Linked DNA regions of Homo sapiens. The protein of the gene in region 3 purifies or fractionates together with the protein of the main gene of each other region. This does not show direct contact. Each region holds a gene or a part of one and is shown on either strand. Other genes may lie near its edges.

The links. Proteins that work in one complex are often made in the same cells at the same time.
Region 1: the proteins of MOB2 (region 3) and MICALL2 fractionate together in Homo sapiens (co-fractionation; one large-scale study listed by BioGRID). This does not show direct contact.
Region 2: the proteins of MOB2 (region 3) and ECHDC3 fractionate together in Homo sapiens (co-fractionation; one large-scale study listed by BioGRID). This does not show direct contact.

The regions. Positions count from the first base shown.
Region 1 is NC_000007.14:1,452,971-1,456,470, forward strand, and holds part of MICALL2 (MICAL-like protein 2), read right to left. Parts: intron 2,458-3,500; exon of another isoform or gene 2,359-2,457; intron 1-2,358. UniProt on the Homo sapiens protein: Effector of small Rab GTPases which is involved in junctional complexes assembly through the regulation of cell adhesion molecules transport to the plasma membrane and actin cytoskeleton reorganization.
Region 2 is NC_000010.11:11,745,382-11,748,881, reverse strand, and holds part of ECHDC3 (enoyl-CoA hydratase domain-containing protein 3, mitochondrial precursor), read right to left. Parts: intron 1,534-3,500; coding exon 1,412-1,533; intron 1-1,411. UniProt on the Homo sapiens protein: May play a role in fatty acid biosynthesis and insulin sensitivity.
Region 3 is NC_000011.10:1,468,643-1,474,141, forward strand, and holds the end of MOB2 (MOB kinase activator 2), read right to left. Parts: intron 2,778-5,499; coding exon 2,653-2,777; intron 1,847-2,652; coding exon 1,530-1,846; 3' UTR 815-1,529; downstream 1-814. UniProt on the Homo sapiens protein: Stimulates the autophosphorylation and kinase activity of STK38 and STK38L.

The DNA.
Region 1 (3,500 bases), on a different chromosome or scaffold from region 3:
GCCCGATGCACCCGCCAGGCCCTCCCCAGATGCACCTTGCTGTCCCCGAGCTCACACCCCCGGGGCCCCTGAGCAGCTGAGCTCAGGGGCCCGATGCTGGCAGAAATCGCCGCCAGAACCGTCTCGCAAGCCCCACCAACATCGCCAGGTGGAGACCCCACTCGTGTCTCCAGGAGCCCCCCAAGAAAATGACACATTGGAGCCCTAACCTCCAATTCCACCACGTGACCTTATTTGGAGACAGGGTCTTTCTGGAGGTGAGAATTCATTTTGCCTCCTTTGGAGATAAGAGAATTCAAACAGGGTTCTTTGCGGGGAGCCCTGGTCCCATGGCTGGTGTCCTCATAAAAGGGAAATGTGGATGCAGATACAAACTGACAGGGGAAGAGGATGTGAAGGCACAGGGCGAAGACGGCCACCCCAGAGCCAAGGAGAGAGGCCGGGAAGATCCTCCCTCCTGCCCCCAGGAGGGCCCAGCCCTGCTCACACCTCCGTCCGGGACGTTGGCCTGCAGAACTGCGGGAGGACACTTTCCGTTGTTGAAACCGCCCGTTTGGGGGACCTTGCAAGGGCAGCTTGAGCAGGTGGACACCCCTGTCCTTGCCGGACAAAAATGCATCAGCTTCCCCCCACTCAGCAAGTGACCAGCTACCCATGGTGAGACGGCTGGAACTGGGACACAGCCCCAGCCACCGCTGCAAACCTGCAGGCTGTGGGATGGGGGCTGCAGGTTGCCCACCTCCGAGACATGGCATCCTCCAGGGTTTAATCTTCTCTTATTTGAAGCCTCAGAATTAAAATCAGGTATACCATGGCCCGGCTCCAAGACACACACCGTGGGCCAGGCACACAGTCGGTGCCCTATAAATGCGTGTGATGCATTTGTTCTGTGCTTGGTGAGATTTCTGTGGCAGTAACTTATTCTTTCAACACTGGCTGAAGGAATGAATTTGCCGTCTGTGTGTCGGTCACAAGATTTGCCCTGGCCAACTCTCCACCGTGCGTGCCCCTGCCCGGCCACACCTGCCCCCACCACCCCTCTAACTGACCCACGACCATCAACTTCAGCCCATGGAGTCCAGCCGGCCTCTGCCCCGGCGCCTCTGGGGGCTCTTGGGAATGTATACCCCCCTCCAAATTCCTGGGTGGCCGACATCACACTGTTTACTTCCTGGAACAAGATTCCGCCATGGAGTGGGGAGGGCGGGGGGGTGCAGGACTTGGAAGGGAAGGAGCCCCAGCCGAGGCACATCCAGCACATCAGGAGAGAATCCCACGGAGAAGGGAGCAGAGGGAGTGGGGAGAGGCAGGTGGACGGACAGAGAGAGCTGGAGAGAGAGAGGAAGACCCCAGCGGAGATGGTGGAGGGAGGCCCAAGAGAGACAGGGACCAGATGGCACAGTCGGGATGGCAGAGAGGGGACTCGGGGAAGGAGCAAACCTCAGAGACAGCGAGGACATGGCCAGGCAGAGCTCAGGAGAGGAGGGGGTGGGCAGGGGGCGGTGACGACTGGGGAGGGGAGGCCGCAGAGCCCCCACCTTGCACACTGGGCCTCTGGAAGGAAAGTGTGGGGCCCTGGGCAGTCCCCCTGCAGTAGGTGGACAGGCAGCCCCCTCCCGCGCCCGTCCTGGAGGGTTCCGGCCAGAGGCGGCCACAGAGGTCTGGCTACAGGCCCTGGGGCAGGAACAGAAGGCCTCTGTCCACAAGCAGCTTCCTGCTGACCCAACCCCGCGTGGGAGAGGAGGTCAGCCCACCCTCGGCCCTGGCCCAGGAAGTGAGGGCACTGCCTGGGAGCTTCTGGGTGGGGGCCTCTGCGTGAGTCTCTCCCCTGGCCCCCAACAATAGTGGTGTCTCGGGGAGCCCCGCCACCCTTGGGAGCCACTGCTGGAGGGCTCCATGCACTGCACAGCGGCCGCCCCAGCCACCCCCACTTCCTGGCCCAGCCCTGAGCCCGCCTCCAGAGCTGCAGGGACCAGGAAAACTTAAGGGACCCTGCCTTGGAACTGAGGGTGCAGCAGAGACCCAACTTCACGACACCCTCCCAAGGCCTGGCCACAAATCCGACAAATGCCCCCAGCCACGAACCCCAAGAAGGAGGCCGCAATGTTCTCCCACCTGCTGGACGGCTTCCTGCGCCACGCACAACGCCTGCCCTCCCTCCAGCCCTGCTCCCTCCCAGCCCAGACACGCTGTGCCCCCTGCCCCATCTGCCCGAGGGCTGTGCCTGGAGACCTGCTTGGGCCCAGGAATGAAAGGAGCCAGCCCATGGCAGAGCTGCTCCAGCCCCGACAGGCTGACTGGCTGAGGGAGGTGAGGCGGGAGGTGGGGCTGTTTGTTCTGGGTGGTTTCTGAGCTCACCTGGCTGCCCAGCTGCCCTGTGACACCAGTATGGAAACAGCGCCCGGGGGCAGGCGCCCTGAGGCCTGGCTGCAGAGAACCCACAGCCGCAGGTGAGACAGGGCAGGCGGGCACAGGCAGGCTGACCAGGCAGGGGACCCGCCCACCCTGCCACCTCCTGGTGGGCGTGGCTGGGCGATCCTGTTTCCTGGCCGTAAAGCGGAGATTCACGGACACCTCTCTGTACCTGTGGGGCTCCCCAGTGTGGTCACACGTGGCTCAAGGAGCCGGAACATGGTACACAGGAATGTCCGGATCCCCGCCCCCTCCACCCGGGGTCGGTGGGGCAGAGGCAGAACCAGGAGCCCGGGTGCCCCACCTGGCTGGCCTGGCGCCCGAGCTGGTTCCTTCACAGCTGCTCTCCCTGAGGGCCAAGCGGAAGTGCTCTCTGCGTGCAGCAGGAAGGACTAAGGCCAGACAAAGGGAAGGACTTCCTGGTGGCAGAGCTACAGACAGGGAGACAGGACGTCCACCCTTCTGCTGTCAAGGGGTCTTCACTGGAAGGAGAGGGGAATGAGGTGGCAAGGGCGGGGCCTCACACAGAGTCTGACCTCAGAGCTGCCCTGAGAGGACAACCGGTCTGTGCCTGTCCCTCACACGCGTTTCCTCCCTTCCTGAAGACTACTGGGGACAGGAGGGACAGCCAAGGGCTGCATGAGGAGACCTCCACCCCAGCCACCACCTCATCCAGAGGTACGGCAGGGAGCAGAGGCTGAGGGCACGGGATGGGGGTGATGAAGGCACAGAGGCAGGCACGTCCAAAGAGCCAGGGGCCAGGCGCGGCGGCTCACATCTGTAATCCCAGCGCTTCGGGAGGCTGAGGCAGGAGGATTACTTGAGGCCAGGAGTTCAAGACCAGCCTGGGCAATATAGCCAGAACCCATCTCAATTTAAAAAAGAAACAATATGCTGAGTGAAAGTAGCCAGACACAGGCCAGACGCAGTGGCTCGCGCCCATAACCCCAGAACTTTGGGAGGCTGAAGAGGGCAGATGGATCACTTGAGGTCAGGAGTTACACACCAGCCTGGCCAACATGGCAAAACCCCGTCTCTAGAAAAAATATGAAAATCGGCTGGGTGTGGGGGTGCACCCCTTTAACCCC
Region 2 (3,500 bases), on a different chromosome or scaffold from region 3:
CAGAGTCTTGCTCTGTTGCCCAGGCTGGAGTGCAGTGGCACGATCTCGGCTCACTGCAACCTCTGCCTCCCAGGTTCAAGCAATTCTTGTGCCTTAGCCTCCTAAGTAGCTGGGATTACAGGTGCCTGCCCCCACGCCCAGCTAATTTTTGTATTTTTGGTAGAGATGGGGTTTTGCCACGTTGGCCAGGCTGGTCTCGAACTCTTGGCCTCAAGTGATCTGCCCGCCTTGGCCTCCCAAAGTATTGGGATTACAGACATGAGCAACCATGCCTGGCTGTTGTAGTTATCTTGATTGATAGGCAATATTATTGTCTTTTTGTAAGTGAGGTAATTATGTAGTTAAGAAGCTATAGTGAGACCCCTGTCTCTGCAAAATAAAACCTTAAAAATTAGCCAGGCACAGTGGTGGCAATGTTGCTTGAGGCTAGGAGTTCGAGACCAGCCTGGGCAACATAGCAAGACACCATCTCCACAAAAAATAAAAAATTAGCTGAGTGTAGTGGCACACACCTATAGTCCCAGCTACTCAGGAGACTGAGGTGGGAGATCACTTGAGCCCAGAAGTTTGAGGCTGCAATGAGCTATAATCATGCCACTGCACTCCAGCCTGGGCAACAGGGCAAGACTATGTATCAAATAAAAAAAAAAAAAGAAGACGTTAACTGCCTTTGCTGTATCCAGGTAACATCCCACATGGCTGCTGGACTGTACTAGTTCTAATTTCTTTTCTCTTCACCATATAAAACAGTTGAACACTTTTGATTAACCATGGATAAGATGGTAACATTCTGAGTTTCTGCCTCCAGAAACACTGATGCTTGATTTGCCAAACAAACATAGCATCACAAAGCATCATCATCATATTTTTTTGTGTATGCTTTAAAATGCTAATATTACTATTATTTATACCAGTCCCATCATCACAAGAAAAAATAATTCTGTAAAAATTCCTTTTGGAGCAAGCAAACAAATTAGCAGAATATGGCATCTTTTCCAGCACCATTAAAGGCACTGCAGATATCAGTTCGAAAGCTTGGTAAGAAAAGAAAAGTCAGACCAATCAAATGCGCCAAAGGATTAGTGGTTAAACCCATTTTATAAGGTCCATGAAGAAATCAGTTCTCTGATTTTGAGGGGAAGACCAGTATAGCCAAGTACAGAAATGTTTTAGTATCTGACAAAAAGGAAAAGACATAGTTTCACTGAACAGTCATCTTTGTTATAAATTCTGCAGTTAATAGCGTTAGGACCAAACCACCAACTACACAGGTGTTTTCCATAATTAATGTTCTTGTAAAGGAGCTTCAAAACAATTCTCCAGTTAAATAAAGGGATGCCCCAGTTTACTAAAGACTCAGAAAGCTCTTGTGGGCACTGCAGAATACTAAGGACAGATATCAGATACATACCCGAGATGATAATGACTTTCAGATCGTTGCTGTCAGCGTCATGAAGAATGTCACTTTGGAGAGACTTCAGCATTGCAAGTGACAACGCGTTCCTCTTCTTGGGATTGCTCAAGACGATGTTCCTGTGAAGAACATTTTACAATCACAGGGTCACACACCAGTCAAAACAAGTGAGGACCCCTGCGATTCCTGTCTAATTTAGGAGGTATTTTTAACAGACAAGAAAGGAGAACTGCTGGGGCTTAGTGCCAATTTAGAGGGTCTGTCAACTCTCTGGAGTTACAGCCAAGTCAAAACAAGAAAAAGGCGACCTGAAATGCAGGCTGGGTTTCCTCCCTCTTCCCTTGATTTGTTTCTCTTTTTCTCCATGTTTGCTGTCAGAAACATGACTGCCACCTCCACGGAGAGGGCAATGCACAGCGGTTCCAAAATCAACACCACCCAGAGAGGCTGCAAGCTTAGCATGATAGCAGGCGCTGGAGAAATCTGACAAACAGTGGCTACCTTCCACTGCTTTCTTTCCATTGTTCCTTAGAAAAAAGTTAGAAAACGAGCCCAGAATGAAAATAACTCCCTCTATAGATCTCGGCTCACTGCAACCTCCACCTCCCCGGTTCAAGCAATTCTCCTGCTTCAGCCTCCCGAGTAGCTGGGACTACAGGTGCCCGCCACCACACTTGGCTAATTTCATATTTTTAGTAGAGATGGGGTTTCACCATGTTGGCTAGGCTGGTCTTGAACTCCTGATCTCAGGTGATCCGCTTGCCTCAGCCTCCCAAAGTTTTGAGATTATAGGCATGAGCCACCATGCCCGACCCAATTTTTTATATTTAATTTTTGTGGGTACATATAGTAGGTGTATATATATTTATGGGGTACATGGGATGTTTTGACACAGGCAAGCAATGCGCAATAATCACGTGATGGAAGATGGGGTATCCATCCCTTCAAGCATTTATCCTTTGTGGATGACAAAGGATAAATCAACAATCCAATGATACTCTTTTAGTTAGTTTCAAATGTACAATTAAATTATTATTGACTATAGTCACCCTGTTGTGCTATAGAATTCTCGGCCTTATTCATTCATTCTATTTTTCTGTACCCACTCCATCTTTTTTTTTTTTTTTTTTTTTTTTTTTGAGATGGAGTTTCACTCTTGTTGCCCAGGCTGGAGTGCATTGGCATGATCTCAGCTCACTGCAACCTCTGCCTCCCGGGTTCAAGTGATTCTCTTGCCTCAGGCTCCCAAGTAGCTGGGATTGCAGGTGTGTGCCACCACACCCAGCTAATTTTTGTATTTTTAGTAGAGCTGAGGTTTCACCATGTTGGCCAGGCTGGTCTCAAATTCTTGACCACAGGTGATACACCCGCCTCAGCCTCCCAAAGTGCTGGGATTACAGACGTGAGCTACTGCACCTAGGCCCGTCTTTTCTTACAGTGGCATCCTGTAAGTTTACAAAACAATTCATGCTGTCTGCAAGTGGGCTGATACATGAAGGAAAAAAGTACAAGCCACACAGCAAGAGGGCTCTTCTGGACATATCCTCTCACAAAAAGCTGGCGTCCAAAGGGCCTGTTTGCTCTTTTGAGGCATCCCACATGCTGAATAAAATAACCTGTATTGTCATCTTGCTGCTTATACACAGAAATGTCTTATTTTTGGCTGTTACAAGAAATGGGCAAAGAGCCAAACACCAGATTGTTATTATATATTTTATATGTTTCCTATCAGTTTTCACCTACAGGTTTCCTACCTTCCTCAATCTTTTTTGAATCTGATATTCCTTCCGCGGTACAGCCAACTTGGATCCTCCATAAATAGTATTCTGTGTCATGGTTTTCCGGAAAACAAGTTTGATGACTGAATTGATTTCAATAAGAATAACCACTTTCTTTGGAATACCATTTCAAGGTTGCTGCAGTCTTCAAGTGGCTGTGCTATTCATCTTGTTGTTTCTTATAAACATTGTTCTCTCCTAAGTACAAAAATTACTTGCACTGATTTGCTGATAGACTTCAAAACTTATATTTGGTGGGGGTGGTGGGAGAACTGCTTATAAACCTCTCCATCAAATATTGAGGGTGC
Region 3 (5,499 bases):
GAGACGCCCCCAGCTGACTCCAGACATGTTCTGAGAAGCCCAGAGGCTGTCAGCTCTCGGGGTGGGAGGCAGAGACAGGGCAGGGGAAGGGCCTCTGACCTGCAGCTCGATCCCTGGGAAAGCCAAGAAGGGGCCTGTTGGCCACAGGTGCATCATGCAGGCTGAGCCCGAGGCCAGGGGAGCACCACGACCTGGGCAGGCCCCCCTAGCTAAGGGGGATGGGGGGGGGGCGGACTGCCCGAGGTCACTGTGCAGCAGGCGCCATCGGCAGGAGCCCACAGTCCTGAAGTCTGAACCAACTAGGCCCTGACCCTGGAAGCCCTCTCTTCCCGCTTCTCAGCCCACTCAGGTCCTGATAAGCTCCAGGCTTCAGCTTAGGGCCCCTCTCCCTGCAGCACGTGCCCACCCACTCCCAGGCTGAGGACACAAACCTGCTTGCCCCTGGGCCACGCTGTCCCGGCCAGGAATGGCCCCTGCGGCAGAGCCACTGTTTCAGGCTGGCCCAGAGCCCTTCGGAGAAGATGTCTCCAGCTTACTGCAGCCACATTTGAGGGTCCCCGCCACCAGCACGGGGAGAGGCAGGGGGCTGAGGCAGCTGGGAAGAGCGAGTGACACAGGGTATGTGCTGCCCCCACGGCACCTGCAGGCTGGCTGTGGACCCTCGCAGGCAGTGAGGGGCGAGTCTGCTCCAACCCCCACTCTCGGGGCAGCCTCCGGGGTGCCTGCTCCTGGGGCTGCCCACCAAGCAAGTGGCCGGGATGCCCACAGTGTGGGGGGGGGGCGGTCACCGAGACGCTGAGACGTACACAGGCTCTGACCTGAGAGAATTCTTTTTATTACGAGTGAACAGATGAACTAAGGTAAGCGGGTCTCAGCCTTCCGCTGGTGCAGCATCTCCACGCAGGGCCTCAGCCCCGTCCTGGCCTTGCCTGAGGACTGCACCATGGGTGTTCCTTGGGCATGGAGGAGGCAGCAGGAAGGGGTGACAGGAGCAGGAGCAGGTGCAGGGCACCTCACACCACAGGCCTCCCCCACCTCTGAGCTGCCAACAGCCAAGACTCCTGGCGAGGCCGGGAGAGGAGGGGTGAGAGGGAAGGAGGGTCTCTGTGAAAGCAAGCCCCACCCCCAGAGCAGAGCAGAGACCCAGGTCTGCAAATCACACCCTCCCCCCACGAGTTCCTCCTTTGAGGCCAGCAGCACCCGAGGGAGGGCAGGGGCTGCACGGAGACCAGAGAAAGGAAAACCCCACAGAAGAAAACTCAAAGCATCAGTCCCATGCGTGTCTGCTGAACGAGTGAATGGGCCCAAAGGCTCTTCTCTACAAACGGCACGCATCCATCCGACAGGGGGCCACAGGACACGGCCGGGGCCGTCTGCGTCTGTGCCTGTGCAGCCCACACCAGTGCAGCCCGGGGCCCTCTCAGACCTCACCACACGCGTGCCCAGCACATGTGTGCACACGCAGATGCAGGAGAGAACACACACCACCGTCTCTTTGCACACGTGTGCCCCTGTCCGGCCCGGGGGGCTCATCTCTCCTTCACGTGGTTCTGTGCTCCCGGGCCCCCGCTGCCGGCCCCATCCCCACTGCCCCCACTGTGGACCCCGCCGGCCCCGCTGCATAGCACCTCGGTGAGGTCGTCCATGATGGCGGTCTCTTTGGGGTCCAGCAGGTTGAACTCCCGAGCAAAGAGGATGAAGTGGACGTAGAGCGTGTTCAAGTGTCCGTGCAGCTCCAGGGCCAGCGTCTCCTTGAAGTGGGCCCAGTAGATGTGTGCCAGCACGTGGAACAGGTGTCTGCAGATCTTCCTCACCAGGGACTCAAAGGAGCTGGGGAATTCTCTGCCTGGGGAAGGCCACCGTGTCACAAGCTGCAGACATCCCTTGGCCCCAACAGAGGCCAGGCCCCTGGCACCCAGCCTGGTGGGTCTGGTACCTGCCACCCACACCTTGACCCTGCCACCCTCAGGGCCTACAAAGCCCCAGCAGCAACAGCTTCTGCCCATCAGCAGGCACCACAGGGACTTGCCAACCCCGGGTCTGGGCTGCTGAGACCTCCCTGCGTGCTCAGGCTCCGGAGGCTGCACCTGCCCTGAGGGCTGGGAGCTCGTTGGGCCATCCTGGCCACCTCCTCAGGAAGGGGCCTGTGATCGGGCACTCGGGCCCCCGTGGTGTCTCCCTGATGGACACTTGGGGCCATCTCCCGGGCCAGGACGGAGGTGGCGATGGTGGCACAGGCCTCTCCTGTTGTCCCCTGCCGTCCCTCTGGCAGCACGGGAGTGGCGTGGAGCCCCACCACATCCCACCAAAATCTGGACACAGGCTTGGCGGCTGATACCCAGCCCAAGTGCCCACAAGCTGGACGGTGAGAGCAGCATGAGCGGCAGAAACCAAGAGGGGCCCAGTGCAGCCGCATGGCCCAGAGGGCCAGGGAGATGGCCCTTGGCCCTGGCTGGGCTGACCCCTGCCCAAGGGCTCCGGCCTCACCCCACAGCCCAGGTGGCTCCATGCTAAGCAGGGACTGGGGTGGTGCAGCTGCCGCCCTCCGTGCCTCTGCCCCTCCCGGCACAGGAGCTTGGTCACTTGCAGACACGTCCTGAATGCTCCCTGCCCCACTGTGAGGATGACCGCCCAGTGCTGGGGGAGACGAACCGTATTTTGTGGGGAACACGTCCTCATCCGTCACCAGCTTCTGCACGGAGCTCATGACGAAGTCAACGTACTGTGGGGCCGTGCACTTGACCTTCTTCCCCCGCTCGTCATACCAGTAGTACTGTCTGTGGAGACAGAGACACGGTCAGGGCATGCGCCCGCTGCACACCCACCCAGCCACTGGGTCCCACCCGCTCAGGTCATCTGCGGGCAGAGGTGGCGCCAGCAGCGGAGGTGTGGCAGACCCAGGTGTCTCCCTCCCTGGACATGCACACTGTCCCCACACACTGTCTGCGGGGACCACACTGCACTCTATGGAGGGGTCTGCCTGCGCTGACTTAGAACTACGCCAGGATCACGCTGGGGAGCCTGCCAGCCACATGGCTGTACAGGTGTGTGATTAAATGAAGGGGTCATCTTCGTTTTCTCCGCTTCTACATGGCTTCAGTTGTATTCGTTTACACAAGTGCGTGCTGCTGTTTTTCTGTTGTATTTTGAAAGCACACAGAGGCTCCTTCTCTTCCCAGGAAGCTGTGCTGTGGCTCGCCGGCCAGGCCCCACCCTTTGGGAGAGCCCTGCTCTGACTGCTAGAAGCCAAGCCCCTCTCCGGGGAAAGCAGAGGAGGGCGGTGGTCTCTGTGGGTACCTGCGGCTAACAGCCTGGCCAGGACAGGGACCTGGCCCCCTCTTGCCCCTGTACACAAGGGCGGCCAGTCCTCATGTGAGACTCGTGGCCCCAGAGCAGGCTGGAGCATCCTAGGGACATGGACACCCTGGGTTTGCCTCTTACTGTTGGGTCCAGCCATGACAAGGGTGTGCTCTAGTTCATGTTAATATAAGGTGACCCCCAGCCCCTAACACCCCTCCTCCCCCAGCACAACACCAAAACCCAGGGCACCCACCTGGCAGCCACCACCCCTCTCCCCCTGCCACGGTGCTGGGTCTCAGTCCTCCAAGGCCATGCCCACAGCGGCCGCCCCCGCAGGCCTGAACCAGGGCATGCTGGGGCCGATGCCGCAGCCCCACCCACAGGCAGTGGAGAGTGCTGTGGTGGGAGTGCTCACACCTGAGACACAGCCAACACTATGGGTCGGGATTTCCTCCCTGAGAGCCAGCTCCCAGCTCACCACAGGTGGGAATGGGCCACACAGCACAGAGCAGTACTGGCCACTGAGCAAACGCCCCCTCCACACCATGGCCACAACCACCATCGCCTCCACTGCCCCAGCTAGACCAACAGGCAGTCTGCCAGTACCAGGCTCCACATGAACCGCTCCCACCCTCCTCATCCAGTCACGGTTCCTCTTGGAATGGCCCTGGGTGGGGCAGTGCTGAAAAGGATGGACCCAGGCTCCACTCTGGAGGCCACTCTTCTCTTGGCCAGCTCCAAGCATCGTGCCCTGGGTTCCAGAGCCCACCAAGGCACCTGGGGAGACGCCCCAAGGGCTGAGACAGGGCCACGGGGGGCTCGCCCACTTCCTGCGCAGCCAGAGAAGCCATCCTCCCAGCTGGGCACAGGGCCTCCAGTGTCTCCGGGCACAGGGCCTCCAGCGTCTCCGGGCACAGGGCCTCCAGCATCTCTGGGCACAGGGCCTCCAGCGTCTCTGGGCACCCCTCTGCTGTGTCCAAGAAGCCCCTCAGCCTGTGCACTGCAGATCCCGGGGGGAGTCACCAGAGTTACCAAGAAGCTAGAGGATGACACTGCAAGCCCTGCATGCTGGCACCCTGCCCTCTGCAACAGAAACAGCCATCAGGCCACCTCCCAGCACCACCAGGGCCCTAGGACAACCCCCTCCCAGCACCCACCTCCAGAATGCAAACCAGGAGCTCTCATGTGTGCCCTGTGCGGGGCTGACTCAGCCCACCCGAAGGGGAAGTGCAGCCCCAAAATGGACAGGCCATGAGGACGGGGATGCAGTGCCCACACCTGCCTCTCAGGTGCTGTCCTCCCCCTGGGACAGCTCTGCATGACCTTCACGCCCACCTTCCCAGGCTGCAGGCCTCACCGTGGGCATCGCCACCAGGCTGTCAGACCCTCTGAGAATGCAGAGACAACAGTCCTTTCAGCATCTGCTCCTCGAGAATGATGTAGAGGACGCACGTATCCCCACTGTCCTGGGGTTCCCAGATGGTGTAGGGGAGGCCCAGCCCCTAAGGGCCAGGCTGAGGCCCATGTTTCCAGGGCGAGGACCCAGCCAGGATGGCTCAGCACTCTGCAGGAGTCAGACACTGGCTCCAGGTACCCTGACACTGCAAGCTGACATCTGATGCACCTGGCCACAGGTGTGCGACAGGTCTCAAAACAGTGGAGGTTAGAGACGGAAACCCTTTTCCACAATGCAAACCCAGAGAAAGCAGTAACTCAGGGACACTGTGGATTGTCCCATCTGTTCTGAAAGATGGAACACCACTGTTTCCTGTACTTCTTCAATTATCAGTAAACCGTTTCTGGTATATAGTTCTAAGATTTTTATCCACATGTGGACTCACGCATTCATAACCACAATCAGGACACGCGGCGGCTTACGTGGCCCCTCACACCCGTGCTGCTGTGCCCCCAGCACCCCGGGGATGGCTCCTCAGGGATGGGCCGCGGGAAGGAATCGCACCGCGCGGATCCTCCCGATCTGGGCCCCTCTTGCACGGAGGCCCCTGGGATGCAGTCACGTGGCAGACGTGTCGGAAGTCCACGGCTCCTCACTGCCCAGACACTGCCCCTGCAGAGATGGACATGGCGTGCTCATCTATTCACCTGTGTCCCTGCCAGCAGAACAGAGTCCCAGGTGGCCACATCCTGGCCAGCACCAGTGTCCCGACCGGCATGTGGGCAGGTGGACATGGGTCTGCC